Linked DNA regions of Homo sapiens: region 2 is linked to region 1. Evidence: fine-mapped QTL for protein levels in blood plasma. A gene starts in region 1. The other region holds a variant in brackets. All regions are shown on one strand. Distances are between the middles of the regions.

What was found. PIP is the chance, under the fine-mapping model, that this variant and not a neighbour inherited with it causes the effect. The UK Biobank Pharma Proteomics Project read protein levels with antibody pairs (Olink). The fine-mapping took linkage between variants from a reference panel, not from the people measured, so its PIPs are less certain.
Region 2: its variant is fine-mapped to the plasma level of the PRELP protein (UK Biobank, PIP above 0.99).

The regions. Positions count from the first base shown.
Region 1 is chr1:203,467,314-203,483,845 of GRCh38, forward strand. PRELP (proline and arginine rich end leucine rich repeat protein) reads left to right here and starts at 8,493. Exons shown (of 3, transcript NM_002725.4): 1 at 8,493-8,625; 2 at 15,856-16,532. The coding sequence starts at 15,872.
Region 2 is chr1:203,393,450-203,409,981 of GRCh38, forward strand. BMNCR (bone marrow associated non-coding RNA) reads right to left here and starts at 14,176. Exons shown (of 3, transcript XR_001738390.3): 1 at 13,082-14,176; 2 at 12,336-12,403; 3 at 11,284-11,928. It overlaps LOC102723529 (a long non-coding RNA gene), which reads left to right. Exons shown (of 7, transcript XR_922438.3): 6 at 2,544-4,474; 7 at 5,026-6,643. It also overlaps the pseudogene LARP7P1. The variant G/A (reference allele first, on the strand shown) is at 9,412.

The DNA.
Region 1 (16,532 bases):
TTGAACCTGGGAGGTGGAGGTTGCAGTGAGCCAAGATCATGCCATTGCAATCCAGCCTTGGCGACAGAACGAGACTCTGTCTCACAAACAAAACAAAACAAAAAACGCAGGGAACCAGGATCCCATGAGTCTGGTTCTCTGGTTCCACAGGAACTATGAAAGGAAATGAGAATGGCAAGAAAGTCAGGTCAGGCTGCAGGGTCTCAAATGTCATGCCAAGGCATTTGAATTTTATTCTATAAATACCTGAGAGACATTGCAAAATTTTAAGCAAGGGAATTACATGATCAGGTTTGTGTTTGAGGAAATAACACACTTGTTCGGTCATGGAAAACAGATTAGAAGATGAGAAGCCTTCAGGAAAAAAATAAAAACAGGAGGATTTTGCAATTATTCAGACAAACACGCTAAGAGGAGAAAGTGTTCTAGCGCTTCTCGGCTCACTGCCCGATTCCTGCTGGGGCCAGAGTGCAGGATCCTGAGCGCCTACTCTGTGTTAGAACCATGTAGGTCTTGGGACTCCAAGTAGGAATCCGGTTTGGCACAGGCCCATGGGAGCTTGTGGATAAGGCAGACAGGAGAGCAGAGAAGGGCGAGGAAGTGGCACGGTTCCTGGGAGGGCCATCCACTGGGGGACTGCTGCAGCAAACGGAGAGACCAGGGGTCAAAGAGGAGAGTGCTGTCGGGAGAGCATCCTAGAAGATGTAACACCTGGGGGGGTGAAGGGCTTTCTTTTTTTCTTTTTTCTTTATTTCTTTCTTTCTTTTTTTTTTTTTTTTTTGAGATGGAGTCTTACTGTGTCACCCAGGCTGGAGTGCAATGGTGTGGTCTCAGCTCACTGCAACCTCCACCTCCCGGGTTCAAGCCATTCTCCCGTCTCAGCCTCCCGAATAGCTGGGACTACAGGCACATGCCACCACACCCTGCTAATTTTTGTATTTTTAGTAGAGACAGGGTTTCACTATGTTGATCACGCTGGTCTCAAACTCCTGACCTCGTGATCCACCCGCCTCGGCCTCCCAAAGTGCTGGGATTACAGGTATAAGTGAAGAAGGGCTTTCTACATGGAAGGAGCAGTGGGCAAAGGCATGCAGAGGTGAAATCTCTTGGAGTACTCTGGCTGCTGTGAGACAGTCACATGCTTGGAGTCTAGACTTTGAGAAACAGGGCTGGAAAGGTAAGCAGGAGACAGACCATGGAGCTTGGACTGCATTCTACAGGTCTAATTATCAGCAAAGGGCACAGATCAGAATCATTCTTGATGACAGCCTGGAAAACGCACATGTATTTGAACCAGCATCTCTAGGGCTGGGGCCTCAGGCACTTTCAGGAACACTTAGGTGAATCTAACATGTGCTGTGGGCCAAGAACAATGGTCATGGGGACAGGGAACCATGCAAGGTGACCTGAGGAAGAGTCAGGTGGAGGGTGGAGGGCAGGGAGACCCATCAGGACACCGTAGCAGTGGGCCAGGGTCTAGAAGAAAACAGTGCCATGACAGGAGAGAGGGGGCCAGCTGTCAGGCCATCGAGGAAATAGAACTGACTGGACTTGGAGAGTCCAGGGCGTGGGGAGCAGGGTGAAGGGAACAGTTGAAAGCAACTCTGTCTTTTAAGAAGGAGTAACTGAAACCTAGATCAGTGGTTCTTAACAGTTTTAAGTGCAAAGATTTCTTTTCAACTTAAAAAAGAAGTATGTGATGATAGTTGGACTTGTATGAATACATAATGACACAAAGCTACATGAATTTAAAGATGATTTTAAATAATCTGCATTTTATTCATCACAACAGTATACATACACACAAACAAGAACATCATAGGAAGACGACCTGGGTTCAAATCTTATCTCTGCCATTACTAGATTTGTGACCTTTGGAATGTAAACTGTCTGTGCCTCAGTCTCTCACCTGTTAAATGAGTATTATAGAAGTCCCTGCCTCATTGAGCTAAGAAGGGTGGGCTAAGAAGGGTGCTTTGCCTATAATAATTCTCAAGAGGCTTTATTATTGTTACTGTTATTCAATTTAGAGACGTTGCTTGGTGCACAAATGGATGTGGGGACCCCCAAGGTCATGTGTGGGGGTCCCTGGCAGGGCTGCCTTGCTCCTGCCCTCCTAGACCTTGTAATATGTGGCATAACTGACCACACATGTCCACAGACTGGCCATCGTCGCAGGATGCAGTGGGACTGTGCCTGTATGAGGCAGTGTCATTACCCAATAGTCTATTACGTGGAGCAGGATGGCATTTGGAAGCTTGCTCAGGATGATACCTGGAACCTGGATATTCGATCCAGGTGCTTGTGACTTGCTGTGACTTGTGACTTTTACAACATAAAATTAAATTAGGCTGGGTTTCAGGATGATGTGATTGGGAGATCCCAGAACCTAGGAGGACCTCACCTTGGAAGGCAAAATGCCATCACCACTCACTCGAGCCTGGCTTCTGGGAGACCTAGGGAAGCCCAGAGCAGTGCTTACTGAGCAGCCCCAGGCTAGTGCTGTCTGCTAACACCAGCTGACGGTGTAGCCTTTGCACTTAGGCCTAAAAGCCATGTCTATAGCATTCGTGTATCAGCACCCTCTTTCCCACCAGGTGTCAACAGCCCTCTCTCTGTAGGACTCTCTGTAGGACTGCTCAGATGGTCCACAAGCTGACAACCCCTCAACAGGATCACGGACAATTTGCACAGAGGGATTTAGGGGTTCTCCAGTCCGGCTGTGCTCACTGTGTGGTCGACAGATAAGTTTTATTTCTTCCTCCGCTGCCTTTGCCCTGTCCCTTCCTCTCATCGAAACAAGCAGATCAGATCTGTGGGGAGGCAGGAAGCAGAAGCCGCCCGCATGTGCCTTTGGCTTCATTTTCCATAAGCCTAGGTTCTTGGGGGCTTCTGGGCATAGACACAGTGTCTTGGCCAGAAGAAAGGGGAACATGGAAACTTCTTTCCCCAGAAAATAAAAGGGCCCCTGGCTTTAATGTGCATGTAAAAGGAGTTGAGCTGGAGGAGAATGAGAGCCCTGAGAGAGGGAATCGGGGAGCCTGCCCCTGGCAGAGTGCCAGGCAGCCAGCATGTTTCCAGAGAGGAAAGTTCCTGCAGAAAGTTCTTGTCCCCTACATGTAGCCTAGGAAATGTCAGAGGGCTGCTCGGCCAGAAGGGGCCTGGTGGGATGGAGGGTGTGCCCCACAGCAGCATCAGCCAGGAGCCATGTACGTCCCCTCCCCACAGACACCCTCCATCCCCGTTGGAGCTGCCACTGCATAAACCTGCCTCAAGCTGCTGGGTGGCCCCCCACGGGTACCAAGGACTGAGATGGAGTATTTCACGATCCTGGTGAAATGAGCACTTGGATCCAGAAATTAGAGAAGTGAAATGATAGGATAAAGTTGTGTTTCTGTCACTACTGAGCTGATGGACTGCCTTGAATACCTGAGACATAAAAGGAGAAAACTGAGGCTCAGGAAGGGCTGCGTAGCCCAAGGCCGCCCCGTTAGCATGGAGAGGAGGCAGAGCCAGGCCTGCAACCAAGTTTGTGAGACTCCAACTCCAGCACTGCCTACCTTAAAAATGAGGAGGTCTCCATCCTGGCTAACATGGTGAAACCCCGTCTCTACTAAAAAATACAAAAAATTAGCCAGGCGTGGTGGCGGGCGCCTGTAGTCCCAGCTACTTGGGAGGCTAAGCCGGAGAATGGCGTGAATCCAGGAGGCGGAGCTCGAAGTGAGCCAAGATTGTGCCACTGCACTCTAGCCTGGGCGACAGAGTGAGACTCCATCTCAAAAAAAAAAAAAAAAAAAAAAAAATGAGGAGCCCAGGCCGGTGAGGTGGCTCACTCCTGTAATCCCAGCACTTTGGGAGGCCAAGGGAGGAAGATTACCTGAGGTCAGGAGTTCGAGGCCAAGACCAGCCTGGTCAACATGGTGAAGCCCCTTCTCTACTAAAAATACAAAAATTAGCCGGGTTTGGTGGCGGGCACCTGTAATCCCAGCTACTCGGGAGGCTGAGACAGGAGAATCACTTGAACCCTGGAGACAGAGATTGCAGTGAGCCGAGATTGCACCATTGCACACCAGCCTGGCGACAAGAGGGAGACTCTGTCACAAAAAAAAAAAAAAAAAAAAAAAAGAGGAGCCCAAATGTTCACCAAGAGAGACTGTCAACTAAATAAATATTGGGGGGTGGGGGCAGAGAAAGAATCACCAAAAGGACCAATATGATCATCTTCAAAAGATACCTGTACCACTAAGTGAAAATAAAAGTGCATAGCTGCTTATTTGTTACTAGTGTGTACCTTAAATAAATCTGTGAGGACACAAGAAACTGGCGCACGGTCCTCTGGGGGAAAGTGAGTGATGAGGGGATAGGCAAGGGAAAAGACTTTTTCCCTATGCAAGCTCTTATACCTCTTAGATTTTCAATCAAGAGAATGTATTACCTATTCAAAAAATAATAACCTTTTTTTAAAAAAAGAGGGTGACAGAGAATCTCCTTGTTCAACCCTCTTAAATTCAATGAAACAGACCCCTACTGAGCACCCAGGGTGTGCCAAGCCGTTGGTGGGTGCTGTGGGTTATACCATGATGAACAGGATGCTGTCTCTGCCCAGCAGGGGCCCACTCACCCCAGGCAACCCAGGCCCCCCAGGCTGGAGGGTGGGACAGGCTGCCACAGGACTCACACAGCTTCTCCCCCGTTATGCATTTGCCCAGACCCCACCCACCCTGGACTGGGAGCCTCAACTAGTACAGGGTGAGGGTCCGTCCAGGGCCAGCCTCTGTGGGTCCTGATGACCACTGAGCAGTTTGAGCCAAACTCTTCGGGCCCACACTGCTCCTTCCCGGCAAAGTCTCAGGACCACCACGGGGGAGGTGGGAAGCTTGAGTACCTCCCTCCTGTACTTCTATGGAAAGAGTATTACACAATTGTGTCCTTTCTTCTCTTGCTTTAAGCACTCACTGCTTGTAACCAAGGCAGCAATTACTGTGAGGGTCAAAGAAATGGTAAGCCCCCCAGATGGATTTCGGTCTGGATGGGAAGTGTGGGCAGGTCCCAACTCTGCAAATGCAGCTGAAACCCACCAACTTGGAGAGCCCCCTCCCTCTGCTGCCTGGCCCTCCCTGCATTCTGTCTCCTAACCATGCTGCCCCTAGCCCTCTCCTAGGACCAGGCAGCAGTAGCAGCAACAATGTGCATATCTGGACTTCTCACCATATGCCCCAGCATTCACATCATGTGCCTGTGACTGTTCTCTGGCTACACCAGCAAGAGATAAATACCTCCCCTGGGTTGAAGACACACCACTGGTGTCCCTGAGACTCTAGGAGAGTAGAGGAGGCTCTTCCTGGAGGATCCACATAGTCCCAGGGTGCATGAAGCCAGTGAATCACAAAATACTCCCCTGCCATTGCTGCCAATGATCCTTGTGTTATCTTGGGTATACCCTGGGAGGGAGATGGGGCAGATGAGAAAACCAAGGCTCGTGTGCTGAGACCTACTCACCAGGTAGCTAGAGAACAGCAGAGTTGACATCTTAATCCAGGTTTCCTAACCCCAAACCTTATACTCTCTCTTCACAGTATTGTTGGAAGAGCACTGAGAGGTCATTTGGTACAACCTCGTGTTTTATAAATGGCAAACTGAGGTCAGAGAGGGAGAGAGACATCTTCAAGGTCACACAGCATGCAATGGGGCAAAGCCAGGTCCCAAGAACCTGGACCCCTGTCTACCAGGATGGCGACTGTGTTGAACTGGGAAGTGCTTGTCCTGACTAAAGGTGTTCAAATCCTTTTTTTTTTTTTTAACCAATGCTTCAAAATATACCAGTAGGGTTTGTGGGAGTGGGGAACACAGAAGAAACAAGATTGGCCATGAGTCGGTAATTGTTGAAGCTAGGTATTAGATAATGGGGATATTAATACTATACTGTGTAAATATGTATACGTTTTAAAATTTCCACAAAACTTTTAAAAAATTAACGTGCTGTCAAAAAAAATTAGGTACTCAAGCCATATTAGGTCCACAAGCCACTGATTAGCAAACTCTATTCTGGACACTCCTGAATATCCTGCTGGCCATGTCTATACTTCTTTCCAATTCTCTCTGCATAGCGTGGGATGCGGGAGATAGGAGAGGGAGGAAGGGAGATAACTGGCTTAGGCAGGGCTTGGAAGTTGGCCATCCATTCCCGAGAGCATAGACTCTTGGGATTTGGATGGCTGTCATACAAATGGATACAGGTGACACCCCTGCCCCTGCCCATACTCCACACTCCTTCCAGTCTGTCTATCCCCACAGACACTCTACCCATCATCCCTGTACCTCACTGTACTTTGCTCACCTTATTATTTTTTGAGACAGGGTCTTGCTCTGTGACCCAGGCTGGAGGGCACTGGCGTAATCATAGCTCATTACAGCCTTGGTCTCCTGGCCTCAAATAATCCTCTCACCTCAGTCTCCTAAGTAGCTGGGACTTCAGGTACACACCACCACACCCAGCTAATTTTTAAATTATTTGTACAAACAGGGTCCCCCCATATGGCCCAGGCTGGTCTCGAACTCCTGGGCTCCATTAATCTTCTGCCTTCGTCTCCCATAGTGCTGGGATTACAGACATGAGTCTCCGTGCCCAGCCAGTCTTTTTTGCCCTCTATCATCTACCACCCACCATACCAAGGGAAACAAGCAAATCTGGCGTCTGATGTTCCCGGCCTGCAGAAGACGCCATATCCCATCTGGATGAGAAATGAAGCACATGAGCAGCCTGGCAGAGCCACAGTTAATGTGAACCTGGAGAGGAACCGTGCTGTCTTCCAGCAAGACCTCACCAGCAGGGCGTGAAGCCATGAGATCTGGGGTGGAAGGGGGTTGGAGAAAGGTCTGGGTTTTATTTTTCCTTCTCCTTTTCTTAGGCTAATTACCATTCATCGCAATCCCTTTCCTAAACCCTAATATCTTCCCAGTTTATAAAGTGCTCTCACATTTACAATATTTAATCTTCCCAACCCTGTGAGGTCAATATTATCCATATTTTGTAAATGAGGAAACTGAAGGTCCTCATGATCAAGTGATTCACCTAAGACCATAGCTTGTGGGTGGCTGAGCCCAGGGCTGCAGACCCTAATTTTAATGTTCTCTCCTCTACCCCATATTGCGGAGGGCAGGCAGGCAGTCCCCTGTCATGGGGCTCTGCAGCTCTCCATGGAACCAATAATGGAGAAGAAAATTGCGTTGCATTTTCTAAGTAGTCAGCTGGGATGGCAGGAATTTATTTATTTTATTTACTTATTTATTTTTTGAGACAGAGTCACGCTCTTGTTGCCCAGGCTGGAGTGCAGTGGCACGATCTTGGCTCACTGCAAGCTTTGCCTCCCAGGTTCAAGCAATTCTCCTGCCTCAGCCTCCCTAGTAGCTGGGACTACAGATGCCCGCCACCACACCCAGCTAATTTTTTTGTATTTTTAGTACAGACAGGGTTTCACCATGTTGGCCAGGTTGGCCTCAAACTCCTGACCTCAGGTGATCCGCCTGCCTCTGCCTCCCACAGTACTGGGATTACAGGCGTGAGCCACTGTGCCTGGCCATGGCAGGAAATTTTGATGGGCATCTACTTACCTGCAAGTGTGTTGTGCTTTCTTAATTGAGGGGCATTGTTAGAGGATTGTTAGAGGTAGTGGTGTTACTTGACTGGGTCTTCTGGGGTGTTGATGTGCACAGGGGAAATTTGGATTTCCCATCACTTTGTGTGATGACCACACAGCCCCTAAATCTCACCTAAGTGTGATATGGAGAAGCTGAAAGAAGCCACTACATTGTCCACATGAGCTAGGAACAGTGACTTTAGGTCTTACATTAAATCTTAATTCTGCCTTAACTTTGCTGTGCAACTCAGGCCAGACTTCTCCCTCTCTGGTTCTCAGAACAGCCCTGGCAGCCAAACCGAAGTTATCTCCTATGCCAGCCTGAGACTCCACTCCCTTTGCAACCTCCTGGAGAAGATAACTTAGGGAAAGACTGTCACTGCTCAGAGGAAGCATCCCAAACCCCTCACTGGTTTAGGAATTTAACACTACCGAGCAACGGCCCCAGAAGGCAAGGCGATTGTTAGGAGGAATTAAACAGGCTAGTGCTGGACCCAGCCATCCAGTCCTGGCTTACACAGAGGTTGCTTTTCATGCCTTTTCACTCTGTTAATTTGGCTTGTTTTCCAAACATGGGTCAAACAACCCCTCTCCAGAAGCGGCAGCAGCAGAAGGAAATGTTATTAAAAATGAGTCTGTTAGTGGGAATGGTGTGTGGATGAAGTCTTTGGGAGTTTTGGCTGCCAAATAAAGACTTTATTGTCATTCCTCCTTTCCCAAGCTCCCTCCCTCTCTCCTCCCCTCCCCTCCCTCCCTCCTCCCTCCTCTCCTCCCCTCCCTCCCTATGATCTGCCCCTCCCTCCCCCCAAGCTAACCTCCCCACCCCAATAGGATCTGGTGGAAGAAAAGTCAGGCAAACACAAGCACGCACACACCACTGGGAGATCAGATCTTCTAGCTGGCTCTCTGCTGCCACAGCTCCGCCGAAGGGAGGGGGTGGAAGAGGAGGACTAAACTCAGAGCTGAGAGGAGAGGCAGGTGTGTGCAGGTAAGCCCAGTTGGGAGATGGGCAGGAGACTGGGAAGAATCTTTCATCCAGTAAGTTTCCTCCAGCTCTGTCCATTTATTGATCTAGTCTCTATCCTCTCACTCCTTCCTTCCTCCCACCTCTTTCTCCTCTCAAATGAGTTCAAATTTAGTCTTCCTAACTTCTTTCCTATAGCCTCTTCCTTTTCTTTTCATCACTCTGTACCCCTATATTTGCTTACTGCAAAAGTTAAGCTTTCCTGCTGCAGATGTTTGTTGTAGCACAGAGAGCCACGCTGCACAAAGTGTTTCTACAGATCAGGTGTTTCCATAGAAACTGGACTCCAGAACCCATTTCTTTGCACCTTTTGTGTATTGTCACACATTGTGGAAGTCACACACATCACACGGAGGCTGCACGTTCACTACCATCACCCCACACGACCATACAAAATGAAGACATCCTGTCCATTCACCTCTGCCCTCTGCATCTGACATGCAGAGCTAGACCACATCATCACCAGACACCAGCAGACACACACACACATGCATGCACACATGTTCCCTGCATCTTGTCTCTCGCCCTCTCACACACACCTCCCTAGCTGTAAGAGCAAAGATAAAGTACGTTTTCCCACTGAGATGGCAGAGCCAGAAGAAAATCTTGCATCCCAAGTCCAGGCCGAATAGGGAGGAGATAAGCAAGAGCGGGAGCTGGAAGGGTTTCTTCATTATTTAGGGCTTCACTGGGTAGGAGGGAGAGAAAAACGGCTTTTTCCAACCTGCACAGTGTCTTCTCAGCAGCTTTCAATTTCTGTCTCACTGGTCCAAACCACTTGGCTTTTGGAAAGAAAGAAGAAAGCGACCCAGTTCCCAATCCTTGAAGGTCCTAATTCCCAGCTCTGGGGACAGTTCATTTTTTTATTTTTTTTTCCTGCAGGCAGCCAGAAAAATATTTTTCTTTAAAGCCGTTCTGAAATTATTCCAACCATTTAGGTTGGCAAAAGGTCCTGTGGCAGAGGAGAAAAAAAAAAAAAGGCAGCAGTTCCTTAAGCAGTTGGGGAGGGGAAAACTGAAGGGCGGCCCCTCTCCTGCTCCCCTGCTCATTCCTCTCTATTAATAGAGAGGGTCTGTCCCAAGGCAGGCGGGGTGTAGGGAGATCAGGGGTCCCACACACAGCTGATCTTCACAGTCACCTAAGGGCTGGAGAGGGAGGAGTGTGGAGGGCTTACTAAAAATACAGATGTCGGCTCTCACTGCAGATCTACTGAATCGAGACCCAGGAATCTTGTTTTAATACTTCAGGAGATTCTGATGGTCCACCAGGGCTCGAGAATCAGGGGCCTGAGAGAGAGCTTTGCTGTAATTTTTAAGCCCAAGACTCCGGCAGTGTTAGCTGGGCAGAAGGACTGTGTCCTGGAAAAGGAGCACCAGAGTGTCCCAAATAGGCCACCTCTTTTTTGGGGAGTGGGAGTAAACAGGGAAGAGCTGTCTCCCTCTCTCCTCCTTGCAAGCACAAGCAGCCATATATACCACAGAGGAACATTCCAGTAAGAAAGTTCCCCCAAGATGGCTCCACAGAGCTTCTGTTTCCCCTCACCTGTTAATCTGCCTGCCCCAGGACCCCAGGAGCATGTGCTGGGCCCTTCCCCTGACCCTTATAGGTCCCTGCTCCTCCTTCCCAGCAGCCACCTGTCTGGGCTCTCACAGAGGGTGAGCTGAACACTTTCTTCATGCCCCCTCCACCTCCCTAGTGGGCAATCCCATTTATTGGGCATGTGAGTGAAGCATTTCAAGGCTGGAAGGGGCAAAAAGCTGGGAGAAGTCAAGAATCGCAGTGGAACTCCATGGCCCACTGAGGAAGGCAGACTTGCACCTTCTGTGGCCAGTGTCCCCTCACCTGTTGCAGAAAGCATCGGTGAGAAGTTGGTGAATTAGAAAGACAGAACAAGCTTTCCCTAGGTGGCTGGGGACTTCCAGAGTCTCCTCAGTTAGTTGTTTCTGAGACCCAAGTGTGATCTCACAAGCCACAAAGGGGAGGAAGTTGCTCTGTGTGGAAGAGCTGGTACCCCACTCACAAGGATCCCTGCCTTCGAGCAGTGCATGGGGGCTGCCCTCTAGCCAGGCTGGAGGGAAGGAGACCCCATTACTTTGAAATAATATCAACAAGACCTTAACATTCAGAAAACACTCACTTTGCATGTATTAACTCATTTAACCCTCAAAACAGAAAAGAAGGTGTTAGTATCCCCATTTTATAGAGCAGAAAAGCAATTGCTTTGCCTAAGCCTACCTAGCTAAGCATCTGAATGAAGAACTGCAGGATTGGGTCTCAGATCTATAATCACTCAAGGCATCAGACACACTCTTCTAGGCTTTCTTCAAGGCTTGGAGATGCTGGGGGAATGGGGCAGAGGATATGGTAGGTGGCGGGCTGTCAGAGAAGAGTCGTCTCACCCTGGTTTCTTCCCCACCGCTCAGAATGGAAAACTTTCTCTTCTAAACTAGTGGCCTGAGGCCAGAAAATCTTCATTCTGTTTACACTTTGCCTTGTGGTAGACACTGGGGAGACAGATGGTCTCTCCATAATAGTGTTATTTTTATTTTTAGCACTTTTTGATCTGTAGTGCATTTTAAAGCTGCTAACTGCACTTGCTTCTGACAATTGGGTAAGGAATATAGGTATAGGGAAGATTTTTTTATTCCCATTTTACAGATAAGAAAACTGAGGCCCAGAACAGGGTTCGCATCACTAGGTAGTGGTGGAGGGGTGAGAATCTTCTCTCCTAACTAGTATGCACCACAGGCTCTCCTCCCACTGCCCCAGGCAAGCTCATCCTTGTATCGTTTCACCTTCCTAGAAAGGGGCATCTTGAAGTCATCATGCCCCCATAAGGCTCCTTTGTTATCTCAGGACCACATCAGCCCTAATGGGGGCCTTGAAAGGGCCTCAGGCTCACTCCTCTACTAACTCTGCTCATAAATTGGCAAAGACTGCTTGATTCTCCCTGCTTCCAACACCCTTCTGGACTACAGGAAGAGATACAGAGAGCAGGATGGCTTTCAGACACCTAGGTTGAGAACAGAAAGAAGGGAAAAAAGAGAGAGGGGTGTTCCGACATTCACCGGCACAGCGCTAGGTCAGAAGCAGCCCCATTCTCCACTGCAGGGTAGCTCTGGGTCAAGGCATGGAGGCTTAGGGGTGACCAATTAGACAGGAGATCTGACAAGTAAGAAGAATGCCAGTTCAGAGTGCGGCGTAACCCTGCTGCTAGCCCTGCCTAGCCCTGGGAGACAAACCCAACCTCATTCCCAGCCCAACCTCAACCTCTCCATACAAAGCCAATTAGCCTTAAATAGCTGCTCCTAATGACTTGACCAACCCATCAGGACTTCCACCCAACCCTGCCCTGAGCAGAAACATTCCACCACTCCTGGGTTTTAACATTAAATTAATGAGAGAGATAGGGAAGGGGGCTATCTCACTTTAAAAATCAAGGAGTCCTTGGGGCGCTGTGGCTCATGCCTGTAATCCCAGCACTTTGGGAGACTGAGGAGGACAGATCACTTGAGCTCAGGGGTTGGAGACCAGCCTGGGCAACATGGTAAAACCCCATCTCTACAAAAAAGACAAAAATTAGCCAGCTGTGGTAGCACATGCCTATAGTACTAGCTGCTCAGGACGCTGAGATGGAAGGATCACCTGAGCCCAGGGAGGTTAAGGCTGCAGTGAGCTGTGATTGCACTACTGCACTCTAGCCTGGTCAACAAAGGGAGACCCTGTATCACCAAAAAAAAAAAAAAAAAAAAAAAAAAAAAATCAAGGAGTCTCTCTAGAGAATCTGCTGTTTATAAACAAATAAATGAGTAAGTAAGCCTCTGCCACTTGCAGAGATTTTGCACTTTATAACATGCCTTCAAATGCATGATCTCATTTGATCCTCACACAGATGAGGAGCCCGGGTTGGAGAGTCAGAGCCAGGAGTCAAGCCCAGATCCACAATAGTTGGAATTGAAATTAGAATTTAAAACTCTCTTAGAGGCTGGGTGCAGTGGCTCACACCTGTAATCTCAGCAATTTGAAAGGCCGAGGTGGGAGGATTGCTTGAGCTTAGGAGTTCAAGACCAGCCTGAGCAATACAGTGAGACCCCCATCTCATTTTTGTTTAAAGTGAAAAAAGAAAAAAAAATTAAGATTCTCTTAGGAAACGTTCTTTAATGTGGAGAGTGAATGTTGGGTTGGGCAAAGCAATTGCCTTTCTCTTCCGTGAAGCAGCAGCTTTTCCAGAACTGATGGTGGAGAGCAGAACTGCATGCAGTTGGCTGTTGTAGGTGGTCAACAAACCTTCACTGATTGAGCAATGAGCAGAGCCCAGTAGAAAGCTGTGGGTGGAGAAGTGCACTTGTGAAAGCATAAGAAAAATTTAAAAACACACACATGGACCCATCCTAAGGAATCTTATGATTGGACAGAAGTTTCTAGAAGGCAGGAGCATAGAGTGTGGGTCTGAGGCTTTGTAGGAGGGACTATGACTACCCATGGAGTCCAGGTACCCTCAGTCTGTCACACAGATTCTGGTTTCAGAGACCTAGGACATCACGGAGCACTGCCAGAGAGAATGGCTGTGCTGTCAGCTGTCAGAACTTTTCATCCTGCCTCATGGCAAAGCTCCGGCAGGAAGGGGCATCACCCCATGAGAAAAGCCTTAGAAATGAATGCTATTTCCTTAAGAGAGAAGCATCCCTGCACTTGGAATGGTTCTGATTCAGCCCTGGGGCTGAGGGAAGGGGAGGAGAGCAGGCTCAGCTTCCCCACATAACTTGCTCCTGGGAGCATTTCCTGGGGAACCTCCTGTTGGCTCTGGGAGCAGCTTGGCTAGGCCCAGAGGTTTGGAATGTAAACGGGTCAGAGGACTAGTGAAAAGATAAGTTCCCAAAGGGTCTGGTGCTGCACATGGGGATGAGGAAGGCCTGTGTTTACTGTGGATGAGAAGGCGCGCACAGCCAGCCTGCTGGGTGGAGCTGTGAGTAACCTGCCTGTTCCTCTCACCCCTGACAATGAAGACCAGGGCTGCCCTGGCACTGAGCCAAGGAAACCCCGCCCCGCCCAGCACAGGTCACAGCCACAGTGCCTCACTGCTTTTGCTGGAAGCCCTGGGCAAATTGGTGCCCAGTCCCTGGCATATGCTTTCGGTGACAAAGGCAATGAAGGGATATAGAAAAACTCCCGCCAGTGCTGGGAGCCTCCTTGGGACAGGGCTTCTCACAGTATGAAAGATTTCTAGATCATTTCTAGGCTTCTGGGTGATTAGAAAATAAATTTTTTTTTTTAAATCAGGGTCACAAAAATTGAGGCTTTTAGAAATGTTTGTTTTAGAATACCAATGCTTTAACTACCCCCTTAATTTATATGCAAGATGACTGTTCTGTTTTCCAGAAAATTACAGAACTTACACAATGTTAATTCATAGTTCACCAATTACAAGTGAAGTGGGGTTCAGCCAACAAGACTCAAGCTTAAAGTTTTGCAATTAATGCCTTCTCTTTTTAACCCTTGCAATGTATCTCTGACAATGTTATATCCTTAACGGGAGATCAAGCCAAAAACCTAACTGCAAGGTCCTTTGTGATAGGAGGCCAGGGAAAATGGCCTTCCAGACCTCCTTGGAGAGGCCTGCCTTGGAAGAGACCACCTTAGAGGGAGGTGGAGAAAGACAGTCTCTGCCTTCCTTCCCTTCCGCCTTCCTTCTTTCCTTCCAATACTCAGTGTACTGCGTATGGGCTCATATACGCACACAGAGGATAAGTGAGTGAGTTTGCTTATGTGCATGGGACCTGAAGAGGTGTGTGTGTGAGTGTGCAGACTGGATCTGCTGTTAAACAGCATCTTGGCCTTGGCGAGCCACTTCTTCCTTCCAGTCCTCAGTTTTTGCAAATGGTGGGGTCTGGAGTTGATTGGTGGATTTCAAGCCATTTTTAGCAAAGAAACGTGTCCCCTGCCCCTCAACAAATGAATGCTTCGGCTAAACCTCAATATATATAATAGGTTTTTTTAAAGAGAGCTGCTGAGGTTGGCACAGGGATGGGTTGAGGGTACCCCAGGGCCATCTCCTCAGTCTCCTCCCCACAGGGGTATGTCACAGAAATGAAAGCAGAGTTGGAAAACCACTAGGTTATAGGATCTTTAAGGACCTTTCTGGATTTAACCAGGACGCTAAGGTTCATACATCCTAACATCCCTCTCATGAAGACACTGATGATTTTCTCATGCTGTGAATGGGAGGACTGAGGGCCAGAGTGGTTAAGGGTCTTCTCTGACAAGCCCCAGGACTCCTGACTCGGAGTCCAGTGTGCTTTCTTTCTTTCTTTTTTTTTTTTTGAGAAAGAGTTTTGCTCTTGTTGCCCAGGCTGGAGTGCATTGGTGCAATCTCGGCTCACTGCAACCTCCTCCTCCTGGGTTCAAGCGATTCTCCTGCCTCAGCCTCCCAAGTAGCTGAGATTACAGGTGTCCAACACCACACCCTGCTAATTTTTTGTATTTAGTAGAGATGGGGTTTCTCCATGTTGGTCAGGCTGATCTCGAACTCCTGACCTGAAGTGATCCACCCGCCTTGGCCTCCCAAAGTGCTGGGATTACAGGCTTGTATGCCACTGTCCCACCAGCCCCAATGTGCCTTTTTTTTTTTTTTTTTTTTTTTTGAGATGGAGTCTCACTCTGTCACCCAGGCTGGAGTGCAGTGGTGCAATCTCGGCTCACTGCAAACTCCGCCTCCCGGGTTCACGCCATTCTCCTGCCTCAGCCTCCCAAGTAGCTGGGATTACAGGCACCCGCCACCACGCCTGGCTAATTTTTTGTATTTTTAGTAGAGACAGGGTTTCACCGTGTTAGCCAGGATGGTCTCGATCTCCTGACCTCATGATCTGCCCACCTTGGCCTCCCAAAGTGCTGGATTACAGGTGTGAGCCACCGCACCTGGCCACCAATGTGCTTTCTACCAGCATGTCCCCCGCCCTCTTCAGAGCAGGCTCAACACATCGAGTGGCTAAGCCAATGGCCAGGGAATCCAGAGCCTCAAGCCCTTGTTATTCCCTTACCTGCTGGGTACAGGCAAACAAGGAGATGCTTCCACAGCTCCCTGAGCTCTGCCCATCTTCCCTAGAGCTCTAGTTCTGCCCAACTCTGGCTTCAAAAACATGACAACTAGTTACTGAGGGCCCAAGGATAATGACCTTATGTGTCTTCTCCCTGCAGGTGCATCACCTGGATCATGAGGTCACCCCTCTGCTGGCTCCTCCCACTTCTCATCTTGGCCTCAGTGGCCCAAGGCCAGCCAACAAGACGACCAAGACCCGGGACTGGGCCCGGGCGCAGACCCAGGCCCAGGCCCAGGCCCACACCCAGCTTTCCTCAGCCTGATGAACCAGCAGAGCCAACAGACCTGCCTCCTCCCCTCCCTCCAGGCCCTCCATCTATCTTCCCTGACTGTCCCCGCGAATGCTACTGCCCCCCTGATTTCCCATCTGCCCTCTACTGTGATAGCCGCAACCTGCGAAAGGTCCCTGTCATCCCGCCCCGCATCCATTACCTCTATCTCCAGAACAACTTCATCACTGAGCTCCCGGTGGAGTCCTTCCAGAATGCCACAGGCCTGCGATGGATTAACCTGGACAACAACCGAATCCGCAAGATAGACCAGAGGGTGCTGGAGAAACTGCCCGGCCTGGTGTTCCTCTACATGGAGAAGAACCAGTTGGAAGAGGTCCCCTCGGCCCTGCCCCGGAACCTGGAGCAGCTGAGGCTGAGCCAGAACCACATCTCCAGAATCCCGCCTGGTGTCTTCAGCAAGCTGGAGAACCTGCTGCTCCTGGATCTCCAGCACAACAGGCTGAGCGACGGCGTCTTCAAGCCCGACACCTTCCATGGCCTCA
Region 2 (16,532 bases), 74 kb before region 1:
ACTGGGTATATATCCAAAGGACTATAAATCATGCTGCTATAAAGACACATGCACACATATGTTTATTGCGGCACTATTCACAATAGCAAAGACTTGGAACCAACCCAAATGTCCAACAATGACAGACTGGATTAAGAAAATGTGGCACATATACATCATGGAATGCTATGCAGCCATAAAAAATGATGAGTTCATGTCCTTTGTAGGGACATGGATGAAATTGGAAATCATCATTCTCAGTAAACTATCGCAAGAACAAAAAACCAAACATCGCATATTCTCACTCATAAGTGGGAATTGAACAATGGGAACACACGGACACAAGAGGGGGAACATCATACTCTGGGGACTGTTGTGGGGTGGGGGGAGGGGGGAGGGATAGCATCGGGAGATATACCTAATGCTAGATGATGAGTTAGTGGGTGCAGCGCACCAGCATGTCACATGTATACATATGTAACTAACCTGCACATTGTGCACATGTACCCTAAAACTTAAAATATAATTTAAAAAAAAAAGTGTGTTGCTTAGTTTCCAAATACTTGGGAAGTTTTCAGGTATCTTTCTATGATTATCTAATTAAATTCTCTTGTGACCAGAGAATATATTTTGTGTAATTTGAATCATTTAAAATTTATGGTGACTCACTTTATGGCCCAGATGGTCTATCTTGGTAAATGTTCCATGAGCACTAGAAAAAAATATGCATCCTGTTGCTATATGGAAGAGTGTTCTCAAAATGTCAGTCAGGTCCAATAGGTTAGTAGGGTTCCTCAAGTGTACAATATCCTTGCTATTTTCTGTCTATTAGTTTTATCAATTATTGAAATAGAAATGATGAAATCTCCAACGGTAACTGTGGATTTGTCTATTTTTTCTTATATTTCTATCAGATTTTCCTTCATGTATTTTGAAGCTATGGTATTAGGTGCATAAATATTTTTGGATTATTACATTATGTTGAAGAATTGACACCTTTATCGTCATGAAATGATGCTAATTATTCCTAGTGATATCTCTTGTTCTGAAATCTACTTTGTCTGATATTAGCATAGTCATTACAACTTTCCTTTGATTAGTATTAGCATGGTATATCATTTCTATCCTTTTATTTTTAATCTGCCTTTGCTTTTATTTTATTTATTTAGGAGTTGAAGATCTCACTATGTTGCTCAGACTGGCCTTGAACTCCTGGGCTTAAGGGATCCTCCTGCCTCAGCCTCCTGAGTAGCAGAGACTGCAGGCTCGAGCCACTGTACCTAGTTTTGTCTTTGCCTTTATATGTAACTTGGGTATCTTAGAGACAGAAAATAATTGGGTCTTGCTTTTTTAAAAAAAAGTCCTGTCGGCCAGGTGTGGTGGCTCATGCCTGTAATCCTAACACTTTGGGAGTCCAGGGCGGGCAGATCACTTGAGGTCAGGAGTTGAAGACCAGCCTGACAAACATGGTGAAACCCCATCTCTACTAAAAATACAAAAAATTAGCCGGATATGGTGGCACACACCTGTAATCCCAGCTACTCGGGAGGCTGAGACAGGAGGATCACTGGAACCTGGGAGGCGGAGGTTGCAGTGGGCTGAGCTCTCACCACTGCACTCCAGCCTGGGAGACAGAGGGAGACTCCATCTCAAAAAAAAAAAAGTCCAATCTGACAATCTGTGCCTTTTGATTAGAGTGTTAATACTAACTACATTTTATGTGATTATTAATACAGTTGGGCTTAAATCTATTATCCTGTTAATTGTTTCCTGTTTGTTCCATCTTTTCTTAATTCCCTTTTTCCTTTTTTGTGTCTTCTTATTGGTTAATCATTTCTATGATTCTACTTTATCTTCTTTATTAGCATATTAGCAATACCTCCTTGTTTCATTTTTTTCATTTGTTGCTTTAGAGTTTATACTACACACCTTTAATTTATATAGTCTACTTTCAAGTAATATTTTACCACTTCGTGTAAAATATAAGCCCCTTACAACAGTATATTTCTATTTCTGCTCTCCCAGATTTTATGCTATTGTTGCCCTACATTTTGTTTCTATATATGTTGTAAACCTCACAATGTATTACTATTATTTTTGCTTTAAACAATAAATTATCCCTTTTAGATATTTCAATTTAACTTTTTTTATATTTATCTACATATTTACCATTTCCAGAAATTTCTTTTATTTTTTGGTATAAATCCAAATGTCCATTTGGCATCATTTTCCTTTTGTGCAAAAAAACCTTCCTTTAACGCTTCTTAAAATTCTGCTGTTGATTTTCTCTCATTGCTTTTGGACATTCTCTTTAACACTAGTTCTTAAAATTCAATTATGATGTGTCTTGATATAGTTTTCTTCATGTTTTTTTTTCCTGCTTGGGGGTTCATTGAGCTTCTTAGATCTGCAGGTTTATCGTTTTGTCACATTCAGAAAAGTTTTAATCATTCTTTCTTTAAATATTTTTTCTGCTCCCTCTTCTGGACTCTGATGGCACGTATATTAGGCAATCTGATGTTGTTCCTCAGCTTACTGACGCTTTGTTGGTTTCTTTTTTCCAGACTTCTTCTCGGCGCTGCATTTTGAATTGTTTCTACTAGTGTATCTTGAAGTTTACTAAGCTTTTCTTCTGGAGTGTCTAAGATGCTGTTCATCTCGGCCAGTATTTTTTCATCTGTAGAATTTAATTCAGTCTTTTTTTATGTTCTCCATATCTCTCCTTAACATGCTCATACATTCTTCTACCTTTGTGAACACATGGAGTATATTATCACTTTTTAATATTCTGCTCCGCATAATTCTAGCATCTGTATCATTTCTGTTTCAGTCAATTTATTTTTCTTCTTATTCTGGGTCATATTTTCTTTTTGTTTTGTTTTGTTTTGTTTTCAGAAAGAGTCTCGCTCTGTCGCCCAGGTTGGAGTGCAGTGGCACGATCTCGGCTCACTGAAACCTCCGTCTCCCGGGTTCAAGCGATTCTCCTACCTCAGCGTTCCGAGTAGCTGGGACTACAGGTGCGCACCGCCACGCCCGGCTAATTTTTGTATTTTTTTGTAGAGACGGGGTTTTGCCATGTTGCCCAGGCTTGTCTCGAATTCCTGAGCTCAAGCAGTTCGCCCGCTTTGGCCCCTCAAAGTGTTGGGACTACAGGTGTAAGCCACTGTGCCCGGCCCTGGGTCGTATTTTCCTGCCTCTTTGTATGCCTGTTAAGGTTTGATTGGATGCCAGATGTGGCTGGAAAGGTCACTCATGATTAGTTACTTCTACTAATTCTCTGACTTCATCTTCTAATCTCCACCCCTCCCAGGTCTCTGATTTTGCCACCCTGAACTTCTTGCACACTTCCTCGTTCATTTGCACATGCTGTCCCCTTTCTCTGGGGCACTCTTCCCTAGGCGGTCCCCATGGGTTTCTCCCTAACTTCATTTGGGTCTGTGTTCAAATGTCACATTACCAAAAACATTCTATCACCTTTCCTTGCTTTATTTGCCTTTAAACATTTATAACCACTTGCCAGCCATGTTACTTACTGATTGTCTATTTTTACCTCACCGCCCACCTCTGCTAAAATGTACCATGACAGCATCACCGAGAACTACTGCCATCAGCTATATAATGAAACTATTTTTAAGCAACAACAACAGCAGCAGAGAAGAGGGACCAACAGGGTCCAATGCATCAGAGGGGTCCAAACTGGTAAGCACTGAAAAATATCTATTGAATCGGACAATTAGGAGGACTAACCTCCTCAAGAGTAAGTTCCTGCAGTTTGCTGGATAAAGGGCATCAGAGCGCCGTGGGTTGGGTTGAGGACATCTTCTCCCTTACAGCCTCCTGGTTCTTCTCTCAGAAAAACTTCTCCTCCTTCCCAGCTCAATCCTATTTATTTATTTTAAAATTTATTGTGTATATTTAAGGTATACAACATGCTGTTATAGGATACACATAGTTAGTAAAATATTTACTATAGCAAAGCAAATGAACATCTCTGTCGTCTCCGCACAGTTACCCATTTTTGTTGCTTTTGTGGCAAGAGCAGCTACAATCTAGTCATTTAGTAGGAATCCCAAGTACAGTGCGATTTTATGACCTACAACCATCATGGTGTACATTAGATCTCTCCACACACCTGTTACATTGTATCCTCTGACCTACGTCTTCCCATTTCTTCCTCCCATTCCTCCCCAGCCTGCTTCCACCCCAGTAACTGCTGTTTTATTATCTGCGTCTGCACATTTGATTTTGTTTTTAGATTCCACATGTAAGTGACATCATGCACTATTTTTTTTTCCTGTCTGACGCATTTCACTCAGCATAGTGTCTTCCAGGTTAATCCATGTTGTGCCAAACGACAGGACCTTCTTTTTAAAGGCTGAATAATATTCCATTGTATACAGATGCCACAGTTTTTTAAATCCATTCCTCCATCGACACTTGGGTGGTTCCATATCTTGACTATTGTGAAGAATGCTGCGTGAAAATAGAAGTGCAGGTATTTTAAAAAGGTGGTTATTTCATTTTGGGGGGATATAGTCACAGAACAGAGATTGCTGGGTCTTCTGGTAGTTCTGTTTTTAATTTCTTTAGAAACCTCCATACTGTTTTCCATGATGGCTGCACCAAATCTACATTCCCACCAACAGTGTACAAGTGTTCCCTTTTCCCCACACCCCTATGACTTTTTGATAATAGCCATCCTATAGGGTCTAAAATAATATCTCATAGTGGTTTTGATTCACATTTTCCTGATGATTAATGATGTCAAGGACCTTTTCATATATCTGTTGGCCATTTTTATGTCTTCTTCGGAGAAATGTCTATTCAGGTCCTTTGCCCATTTTAAAATTAGTTTATTTGTTTTTCTATAATTGATTTGTATGTGTACTTTATAAATGTTGGATATTAACCCCTTATCGGATATATGGTTTGCAAAAATTTTTTCCCAGTCCATAAGTTGCTATTTTGTTTTGTTGATTGTTTCCTTTGTTGTGCAGAATCTTTTTAATTTGATGTAGCCCCATTTATTTATTTTTGCTTTTGTAGCCTGAGCTTTTGCTGCGATCTCCAAAAAATCATTGCCAGTTGGATGTGGTGGCTCACACTTATAATCCCAGCACTTTGGGATGTGAGGTGGGAGGATCACTTGAGTCCAGAGGTTCGAGACCAGCCTGGGCAACATAAGGAGATGCTGTCTCTACCAAAAAGGAAAAAGAAAATGAAAAAAATCATTGCCAAGGCAACTGTCCAGGAACTTTTCCTCCATGTTTTCTTCTAGGAGTTTTATAGTTTCAGATCTTGCATTTAGGTTTTTTTAAAAAAATCTATTTTGAGTTGATTTTTGTGTATGGTGTCAGATAAGGGTCTAGTGTCATTCTTTTGCATGTGGAAATCCAGTTTTCCTGGCATCATTTATTGAGAAGACCATCCTTGCCCCATTTTGTCCTCTTGGAGCCCTTGACAAAAATGAGTTGACCATATATGTTTGAAATTATTTCTAGGCTGTCTCTTCTGTTCCGTTGGCCTATATGTCTTTTTTTCTGTCAGTACCATACTGTTTTGTTTACTATGGTTTTGAAATATATAGTAATTTTTCACTATATTTTTAAATTTTTAACTTTTACTATATTTTAAAGTAATTGTTAAATCAAGAAATGTAACGCTTCAGAATGCCTTCAGGATGGCTAATCATTAACAGTTTTCTTTCAGAAACTGTAAGAATTTAACACAAAAAGTAGTTTGGAAGCACACATTAAGGAGTTACCGGAAGAAGTTTCTTTTCCTAAATGTGCCTATAGGACCAGATACAAATCCAGCCCTGAATAATAAATGGAAGATTTCTATTTGTATTTCTTTCTTAGAATTGTTTTGGCTATTTGGGGTCTTTTGTGGTTCTGTATGAATTGTAGGAATTTTTTTTTTCTATTTCCATGAAGAATGTCATTGGGATTTTGATAAGAATTGTGTCAAGTCTGTATATTGCTTTGGATAATAGGGACATTTTAACAATATTAATTCTTCTGATCCATGAGCACAGAATATCTTTCCATTTGTTTATATCTTTTTTAGTTTTTTTATTGATGCTTTATACTTTTCAATGTACAGATCTTTCATCTCCTTGATTATTTCTCCCAAGTATTTTATTTTATTTTATTTTATTTTATTTTATTTTTGATGATATCACAAATAAGATTGTGTTTGTTATTTCTTTTTCAGCTAGGTCATTATTTGTGTATAAAAATGCTACTAATTGGGGCCAGGCGTGGTGGCTCATGCCTGTAATCCCAGCACTTTGGGATGCCGAGGTGGGTGGATCACCTGAGGTCAGGAGTTCAAGACCGGCCTGGCCAACATGCTGAAACACCATCTCTACCAAAAAATACAAAAATTAGCCAGGCGTGGTGGTGCATGCCTGTAATCTCAGCTATTTGGGAGGCTGAGACAAGAGAATTGCATGAACCCGAGAAGCGGAGGTTCCAGTGAGCTGAGATTGCACCACTGCACTCCAGCCTGGACGACAGAGTAAGACTCTGTCTCAAAAAACAAACAAACAAACAAAAAAGCTATTGATTTTTAAAAAATGTTCGAAACACATTTATTTTCTAAATCACCTGAAGTTGACTTATATAAGATAATTTCAACAAATAAAATGTTCAATGAAAAATTGTGGTATGCAACGTACTTATGTCATTACAAGTTGAGGAACAAAGATATTTTTTAAATTAACTGTAGGTTTTAGGGAAACATTTATTATACAGTACTACCAAAATAAAAGTGGATCCCTAAGAACAGCTCAAATACCCAGTGAAGTATTAAGAGGTTAACTATAATTTGTTTTCAGTCATATTCAGAAAATTTAATGTGTTTACTTGCTTGTTGAGTCTTTACAAGTTTAATCTTTTTGGCTTTGGTGATTAACTTTTAGTACCTCTTTCTTTTCCCTAGCTGATTAAGTTTGGCCTACCTATCAACAAAAATCTGCCAGTATCTTTGTGATCACCAGAAAAGCCCTTGAGTTTCCAGCGGTATTTCTTTTTAATTTCTGTAAGTGCACTTATTATTGCTTGAGATCCTCAGGAGTTTTGAATCTAGCCTGGCATTCTGTATCTCTTTCTAGCAAATCAACATAAACAACTCCTGAGATTGCTCCAAAGTATTGCATACAAAAGCACTTACAACTTTAAAAATGGGTAAAAATCAACCAGGCATGGTGGCTCACACCTGTAATCCCAGCACTTTGGGAGGCCGAGGTGGGTGATCACTTGAGGTCAGAAGTTTGAGACCAGCCTGGGAAACATGGTGAAACCCCATCTCTACTAAAATACAAAAGTTAGCTGGGCGAGGTGGCGCACACCTGTAGTCCCAGCTACTCAGGAGGCTGAGGCAGGAGAATCACTTGAACCTGGGAGGCAGAGGTTGCGGTGAGCTGAGATCACACCACTGCACTCCAGCCTGGGTGAGAGAGCAAGACTTGGTCTCAAAAAAAAAAAAAGGGTAAAAATCGTTGTGTGTGTGTGTTTGTTGTGTTTTGTTTTGTTATAGTCACACCTGTGTATCAAACACTTCCCCTGGGGCATTTCAGTCCTTGCCCTCTAGCAGGGCACAGTGTGATGGAGGAGGGTTCAGAGAGCTCCCAGCCAGATGGGATGTGCTTGAGCGTGTATGTGTGTGCATAGAAATAAAGATCATCAAAAAGACAACAAACGTAAAAAAGCAATACAGGAACACATTTAGTGAGCACATGCTACGGGGATGCTGGAGAGAAGAGGCCAACTCAGGGACGGAAGGCAGGGACACCCTCTCTGGCTCTGGAGCACTGGGACTGACAGTTGCGACATCCATAATTCATAGCCCATCAATCTTGGAGGGTCCTGTGCTCTGACCCTTTTAAAAATGACCCTCTTCTCTGATAGCTGAGCCCTCCTTGGAGGCCCAGGGCAGAAAGGTTTCTCTGCAAGACATCCTCTGGTGCCCAGCATGATGGATGAGGAGGCCAGAGCTGCTCAGGGCAGCTGAGGCCAGTGGGGCTGAGTGGGGAGATAAATATAGCAGCAAATCCAGCTCTGTGTATAGAGAGTGCGGAAGGCCAAAGGGCAGTGCCCTGGGTAGCATTGAACATGTAAGAGGTGACTTAACAAGCGCAGCTCGTGAAGGAAACAGGGAAGGAGCAGTCAGAGAAAGGTGGAGAAAACAAGCAGTGTAATGCATCATGGAAGCCAAAAGGGAAGACAGCTTCACCAGGACAGCGGAGACGCCAGCGGTGCCTGCAGAGTCCTCCAGAGAGGCCCCTGCCATGGAGGGTGGAAACGTGCCTCGTGAATTTGATCAGTAAGAGGTCCTTGGGGAGCCTGGGGAGAGCAGTATCAATGAAAGGTGGAGGCAAAAACCAGGTTTCCATGGGCTGAGCAACAAATAGAAAGTGAAGAAGGGATACTAGGAGTCAGATTGTCAGATTTAGCAAATAAAAATACAGGATGTTCACTTAAATTTCAATTTATCTGACATTTGAATTTCAGATAAACAATGAATAAATTTTTAGTATAATAAGTATGTCCCAAATATTGCATGGGACATACATAAACTGAAATAATTATTTGTCATTTATCTGAAATTAAAGTTCAAGTGGGCATCATGTATTTTATGTGGCGGTTCTAACAGGTTAGCGTGTGGACTTCTCTCCCAAACAACTTGTCTGGGAAGAAGAGCTGATTGCTAGAGCCATAGCTAGAAAGGGACCCCAGTCAATGGAAAGTTGTATTTAGGATGGGATCATCTAAGCGTGTAGCCCAGGCAGCACTTTCTGTAGCCTGTTTGTAGGCCGAAGAGAAAGAAGGAGAGGCTAAAGACACAGTTGGGAGAATGCTAGATTATTGAAACCATGGGCCTCTAATCAGGACCAGCAATCATTTCACTGGATCCACCCATAAAAAGCAGAAAGTCCCTCCCCAACACTCCATTCCACTAAAAGCTCAGAAAAATGCAAATTTCCAACATTGATTTGCAAGTGTATTCCCGCTCCTGCAAACTGCAGGATTGTGGATTTCATACAAACTCTATCCAGTAGATTTTTGTTTCTTTTGTTCTTTTGTTCTTTTTCTTGGTGTTTTAATGGACCACCATAGCTGAAAATATTTTGCTAAATAGAGCAATCCACTTTGCCAACTTCAGCATTTCTTAAAATTCTGTCACCAGATAGAACCATTTTTAATAGCTAGATTCCATAACCAGTTCAGGCCTCAAGCCTAGGTCTTTTAAAGCGAATGAATCAGATTAGTGCTGAAATCGAGCTCCTCCTTCCTCTTTTTCTATTTTTACTCTTACTGCTAATGGCGAAGTTATCAAAGCCTCTTTTGATGATGAAATAATTGTATCATTGAATCATCACATGACTGAGTCAACAGCTGTTTTTCTTCCTCATCACACCAGTTTCCA[G/A]GGTCACATCTGGCTTGAGAAACTTGAAGTCTGGTGTCCTTTTGTTTATTTTTGTTCCTTTTCCTCTAATTCCTTAGATTTCTGCCAGATTGGGAGCCTTCATTAGTGTTTTGTTTCTGTGTTCGTGAGACAGAAAGGCAGACAATGGTTTTTTTCCCCTTTCCACAAATGCTAACTTGAAGTCTTGTTTTGTTTTCATTCACTTTTGAGGCAGAGTCCAGCCCACCAAGTCGAATTCTTTGCTCAGTTTTAGGCATGTAGACCCCACAGCAGAAGCAGTGCTGTGGCTTCCGCTGTCCTTCCTAAGAATGTCCCTGGCTGCTAACTGTTTGGATGTTCCCCTCCTTCACTAGGGACTTTGAGACTGTTAATAAGAAAAAAATAACAACATTGGGCTACACCAATTTCCCTTCTCTCAAATTGCTTGTTCTATGTTAGTTTCAAAACAAGAGTTTGCCACCTTGGTTTTAAAGAGAGCACTAATGGACTGCCCCCAGTGCTACCTGTTCTGTTTCTAATCTGCTCCAGGATCCGACAGAATCCATATAAGGTAGAGGACAATTGCTTTGAACAGACATCCTCAAGATAGTTCATAATTTTGCCTTTGGTTTTCTCATTTGTAGCACTCAGGATAGAGCTTGGTCTTCTTTGGTGCCTGAGATTTAGGATTGGGCAGGAGGAGGTTATGTTTGGGATCTGCTTTCAAGTAAAATATCTCTACCAACTAATGAGTAATTTAAGATTCTCTCTCTATATGGTACTTATCCCAAGAGGTAGACAAGTACAGACGGGGTGTAGCTAAAGCTGGGGCCATGGCGGGACAGGAAAGTTTCTTTATGGGTCAAAATACTTGCAGTGTTAAACAGGCATGTTACCAAAACAGGTTCCCTCAGGGTGATGGCTCTTCGTCTGCTAGGCTGACCAGGGGGCCCAGATGGTGTGCCTGATATCTGGGAGGACGTCTCCAAGAATGTGTGACTTAAGTCACCTCACCTGGAGGTTGAAGGCCTTACATTATTTAAGCCAGAAAGGACTTCGAAGACCCTGTAGCCTCAGGGCTCCCAGACTTAATTTCATGGTCTATTACAAGTTGGAAGTAAAATACTGTAAAAAGTAACTGGTTGTCGATAAGTTTTATTTTGCCAGTTGAGCAAATAAAATACTCACCTTCTGTCATCATTTCAGAAAAGTACCTTTTAATGTAAAAAATATGGAAGACTTATTCTCTCACTCTTAACATAAAGGATATATATCCCTGTCCTTCCCCAGAAAGTCAGTATTAAACTTACACTAACAGTACACAAATATACTGTATTATATGTCTGTGTGTATCAATATGCATGCACATCATCATCCTCCTCCTTACTTTTTCCTTATCACATGGGTAGCTGTAATGTAGTGATTTAGTACGTGGACTCTGGGACCAGGATACCTGAGTTCAAATCCAGGCTCTACCACTTACCATATGAAGACCTTCAGGTAAGTTACTTAACCTCTCTGAGCCTTGGTTTTATCATCTATCATGTGAAGGTGTTAATAAGAATACATACTTTTCCAGGTGGTTATGAGATTAAATGAGTTAATATATGAAAACCACTTCACACAAAGGAAATACCCAGTAATTCATAGCCATTGTTATATTATTTTGCCACAGACTAGTGAAATCTTTATAAATTGGTATCTGGGAACCACTGACAAAGCACTCCTTTCCTTTTCCATATAAGGAACAACTTAAGTCTAGAGTGGGCATGATTTGTCCAACTCAGGTCATGGCCAGTCAGTGACTGGCATGGGCATAGAACTCAAGTCTGCTGACCAAGTCCAATGCATCTCTGAGGTTTCCTGGAAAAAAAAAAGTCAGTTAGGCAAATGACTGGAGGGTAGGATGGGAATCAGTGAACATGGGCTGAGTGTGTGCATAGAGAGGGGCGGGGAGCCAGCACTTGAGCAGAGCACACTAACCAGTTTGGGAACCCCAGGGAAGTCTGGCCATTGCTGTCTCCTTTCTCTTTCCTCCAACCTCAGAGAAAATGAATATAGGAGCAGGTGACAGCCTGGGGTTGGGGGTCGAGGGAGTCTGCACGTGGGATGGAGTAGGTCGGTAGCAATGCACTTCTACCTCTTCCTCCTTCAGCCTTCAGTCCACCCATAGAACATACGGCTGAATCTCCAAAGTCCTACCTCTTACGACTCTGCTGGTACAGTCTGTTGGATGGAGGTCCTGCCCCTCCCAGGCACCAATCACCAGAGCAACCAAGGCTGGAAATAATGCTCAACCCTTCCACTCATTTTTGCTGCTGTGGTTTGGGGACCATTCTCCATTTCCTAAGCAGACACAGCCTTGGTGAGGACCATGGGATCAGGTAGGATTGCACTCAGTGGCTGGTAACAGAATCCATGGGACTATGGCTTCTTTTTCACTCCCCATAGCAGGAAATCAGGGTGTCCAGGGCAGGCTCCTTTAGTCCCTCTGTTCCATCATCCTTCACATATGACTTTCATCCTCATGACCACCTCCTGATCACATGTTCCAGGCAGGACGGAGACAAAAGAAAATGACAAAAAGCAAGGGTTGGGTACATATCAGGAAATCCAGACTTTCCCCTAAACCTTCCAGGGGCTCCTGCTACTGGAAGCTACTCCTAGCTGCAAGGGAGCAAAGGAAAGGTCATCTTTTGTCTGGGTAACAAATTGTGGTTTTATTAAGTAAGGAAGGAGAGAATTGATATTGGATAAGAAACATTTACTCCCAGGAAGATACAAATTGGAGCCTTTTCATTTCCTTTCCTCCAAAGTTGATTTCAGCGGGATCACAGTCCAAGGAAGCATTAGCCCAGCTCCAGAAGCCTTAATGTCTGTATGGCCTTTGCTGAAACCCAGAACTCACATACAGTGGATCAGGCAGCACACAGCACCCTGCATACCTTTTTTTACAAGTCTCCTTACACTTTCCTCTGACTCCTCTCAGTGGCGCTTCCAACCTCCCTCTCTCCTGCAAAGCAAAACAAAACAAAACAAGAGAGGCCAACTGGCAGCCTGTGCTGCCCTCTCTGCACAGCCTCCCATCTCTCTGACATCTTCCCTGTTACCACGTTTTTCCCTTTGTCTTCTCTGTGCACTTTCTTGTGGAAATGGGTTTGGTCTCTGGGTTGTTACAAATCTAGGCCTCCACCCCTTAGCCCCATAAGCACAACCAAGGCTGAAAATGATGAATCTGGGAGATTATGACACAACCTGTGAACTATACTGTGATATTTCCCCCCGGCTACCCAGGTTACCAGCAAGCCAGTGTAAACTTAAGCGCTGCTTCTACAACATCTGCAGACACCAGTCAGGGTGGGTCAGCTGTGCTTTGCTCCAGCCCTGGAGACCTGCCCCATCCCCGCTCAGCCTCCTGCTCTTCTTGTTCTTATGTTGTCTGAACTCCCCACTTTGATACTCATCCTACTGGCTTCAGCCAAATAATTCCCATCTGCTCCTTCAGAGGCCCACTTAGGATGGTCTGTTTGGGGAGGTTCTCTCAATTCACCTCACTGGCCCCAAGCCAGTCTGCTGTGCTACTCTGATAGGTCAGCCCTTGGTTTATATTATTTGTATTTGTACTTGGTATTCCGATTTTGAGCTGCATTCTTTATATCTGTTCTGTCTCCACTATTAGGCTGGGACCAACCTGAGTGCAAAGTCTGGGTCTCCTGTCAACCCCTCGGGACAAGGGTTACTTTTTTTTTCCCAGCTGATGTTTCTTGGGTACCTTCCATGTGTCAGATGCTGAGGTTGGTGCTCAGGACATGAGACAGACCCAGCCCCTGTTCTCCCTCAGGACTTGCTTCTCCTGGTCCTGTCTGTGCCCCCAGGACAGCACTCTGCCTGACACATCGGGACAACTGACCACTGTCTGGACAGAGATGAGGAAGAGGATAGGGATTCAGCCCTTGGAGATGAGCCCCATCACTCTCTTCCTGGATTCCAAGTTCATACCACTCTGGCGGCTCCTCTGAAAATCCCCAGGCCTCCTCCCAGTCTCCCGGCATCCGGTGTTGCTGTTGGCCGGGCCTGCCTGCCACACAGCCAGGGACTGAAGGACATTTTATTCCAAATGAGGGCAGTCAGCTGAATTTCCAAACCAAAGATTTTTCCACTTCAAATTTTCTCCTTTCCTCTTCTGCCCAAATAACACATTTGTTTTGTAGAAAAGGGACAGAGCAGTTCTATATCTAAGGGTTAAAGACTTTATGGGGATACCTGGGGGATAGGCAGGGCTGTGGCCAAAGTCCTTATCCTGTTGGGAGGAGAGGGAAAAGAAAGGAACTGAGAAGGGCCTTCCAGTCCCCAGGAAGACAAAGGGGATAAGATCAAATCAAGGGATGCCTTTTTTCTTTCCGACCCTATACTGCACTCTCCTTCTTCTTCCATCTCCTTTTCCTGTTTTTTATTTCCTCTTCCTCTCTTCCTTCCCACTATCTTCTTCTCTCTCTTCCTCTCCTTCCTCTTCCTCCATGCATTCATTCATTCATGCATTCTCCCAGCAGACATTTATTCAGCATCTACTATGTGTCAGACACTGCCGCAAGCTAAGAATACAGAGACAACTAAGTCAAGGCTCAGAGTTCTTATAGTCCAGAGGTTGAGGAGGGTGGGGCAGACAGATGACAGGCTGGGGTGAGGAGCTACAACTGGCAAGGAGAGGTACTGGTAAATCTCCAAGTACATTCAGAAGCTCATGCAGTACATTTAGAACAAGGGAAACTCTGGGAATCAAGGAAAACTTTTTAAAAAACTTAAAACTTAAAATTTTTAAAAATAAGTATTTATTTATGTATTTCTTATTATTACTATTATTATTTTTTGAGACAGGGTCTCACTCTGTTGCTCAGGCTGGAGTGCAGTGGTGTGATCATAGTTCACTGCAGCCTCAACCTCCTGGGCTCAAGCAATCCTCCCACCTCAGCCTCCCAAGTAGCTGGGACCATGGAAGTGCATGACCATGCCCGGCTAATTTTTTTTTTTTTTTTTTTTAAGAGACAGGGTCTCTCTGTATTGCCTAGAGTGGCATTTTTTAAATAGACTTTTTTTTTTTTAGAGCAGTTTTATGTTTACATCAAAATTGAGTAGAAAGTACAGAGTTCCCCATGTATCCCCTGCCCCTCACACACACAGCCTCCCCAACTATCAACATCCCCCACAGGAACAGTCATTTGCTAAACCCGATGAACCTACATTTTAACATCATTATCACCCAAAGTCCAGAGTTCACATTAAGGTTCACTCTTGGTGTTGTACATTCTATGAGTTTGGACAAATGTATAATGAATTGTATCCACCTTTATAGGATCATGCGGAGTAGTTTAACTACCTAAACATCCTCTATGCTTTGCCTCACTTAATCTTTCAATCTTCAATTTCTTCTTCTTTGAAATGGGAAATATAACAATTATCTCATAGAGTGATCATGAGGATAAAACAAAATAATATATATGAATATTCTGCTTTAAGTGTGGGTTATTTATATAATATCACAGGGAAAAACCAAGAGAACTCACATAGTTGTCCCTGATTGTGGTATGTGCTACGGGAGAAAGGAGAGAAGCAGATAGGAAAGGATGAACTTTCGCCCAAGCATCAGGGAGACGCTGCTGCATGAGGTTTGGGCTGCAGGCGACACTGGGAGTAGTAGTAGGAGGAGGGCACGGAGGCCCACGGAATTCTAACAGGGACTCTGGACTGTTCCCTGCTCCTGAAGTAGCCCATCCCAACTTTATCCAGGCAGTCCTCTGGCTGCTGCTGGCAGGGGCTCAGAGAGCCTGTGTGAGTCACATCCACGTGGCTGATGTGGGGAGGGAAGAAGGGATGGGGAGGGCTCATGCCCGCGCAGGGCCACGCTGGCTTGGAGAAATGGTTCCTGAAAGTCCCTGGCAGAAAGTGGGCTGCTGTGGGCTGTTAATGTGCCATGCAAATCAACCAGTAAACAGTCCCCAATGAGAATCCCAGATGTCTGTTCACTCCAAAGCACAAGACACTCATTTTGGGCTCCAGGTGGGGACCAGCTCAAGTGAACCCTGCCCATGAGCTGAGGCAGGACTGCTGGTCTCTCTGTCTTCCTGCCTCTGGACGGGGACCTTGTTCCTGGAGACCTCATTGTCCTCCTACACTGAGACAGGCAGTGTCTACACAGGGAGAAGGCGACCGGCAGTACAGATGACATCAACATATCACCTTTCATTCAGGATGGGAAAAATCATTCTGGGGTCTGCTTAGGCTGTCTAGGCAGAACAAAAGAGCTGCACCATAGTGCTAGAGACAGGATGAACCATATGGTATGCTTGTGGGGTACCCCAAATTTCCACCTGAGTTGGGTCTGTTGCCAGGCAGAGGCACAGCTGGGTTTGGGGGGATGCCAGGTGCTTGCTGTATATATGCTCAGAATGCGTTGGCTTGTGGGGAGGATAGCTAGAGAGGGAGAGGTGGAATGAAGCACATCTGGTGACCCGATTTTTTGTTTTCTTGTTCTTAGTTAAGAGCCTCAGCTATTCTTGGGGCTGGAGGAAGAAGACAAGGAAACAGGCAGGGGCAGGAGAAGGAGAAAATGGGGCAGGTAGTGTATGTTACTTGGGGAGGCTCAGAGAGGGAGTGCTGTTTTGATCCCGGGAAGGCCTCTACTTCTCATGGAGTGCGAAGGGGCTTGGTGTTCCTAGGTGAGGAAGAAAAGTATGGTCACATGACCATTTAGCAGCCTCTCCCACAGGGACTCAACATGCAGTCATATCAATATATCATTCCAAAAGCAGCACATAAACACATATACCTTCAAGGATAATTGCAAGCACAGGGTTTAATTATACAGACAATGAAAGCCCACACTTCTTAGAGACACACTGCCACTGAAACACACACAGCCCTGCTCATAAAGACTAGAAGTGGTCACATTGACCCTTCAGGTCAGGGCAAATGTGCCTTGAACCAGCATCACCCTTTGGAGTTTGCAAAGTCTAATGTCCATCTCAAGTTTTCCACAAACTTCTGGAGGGTGCTCCTGCTTCTGATGAATTGTTCGATCCAGGGTCCTCTGGCCATTCCTGGTGACTGTCCCTGTTCCACACCACCACCATCCAGGTGGAGAACAT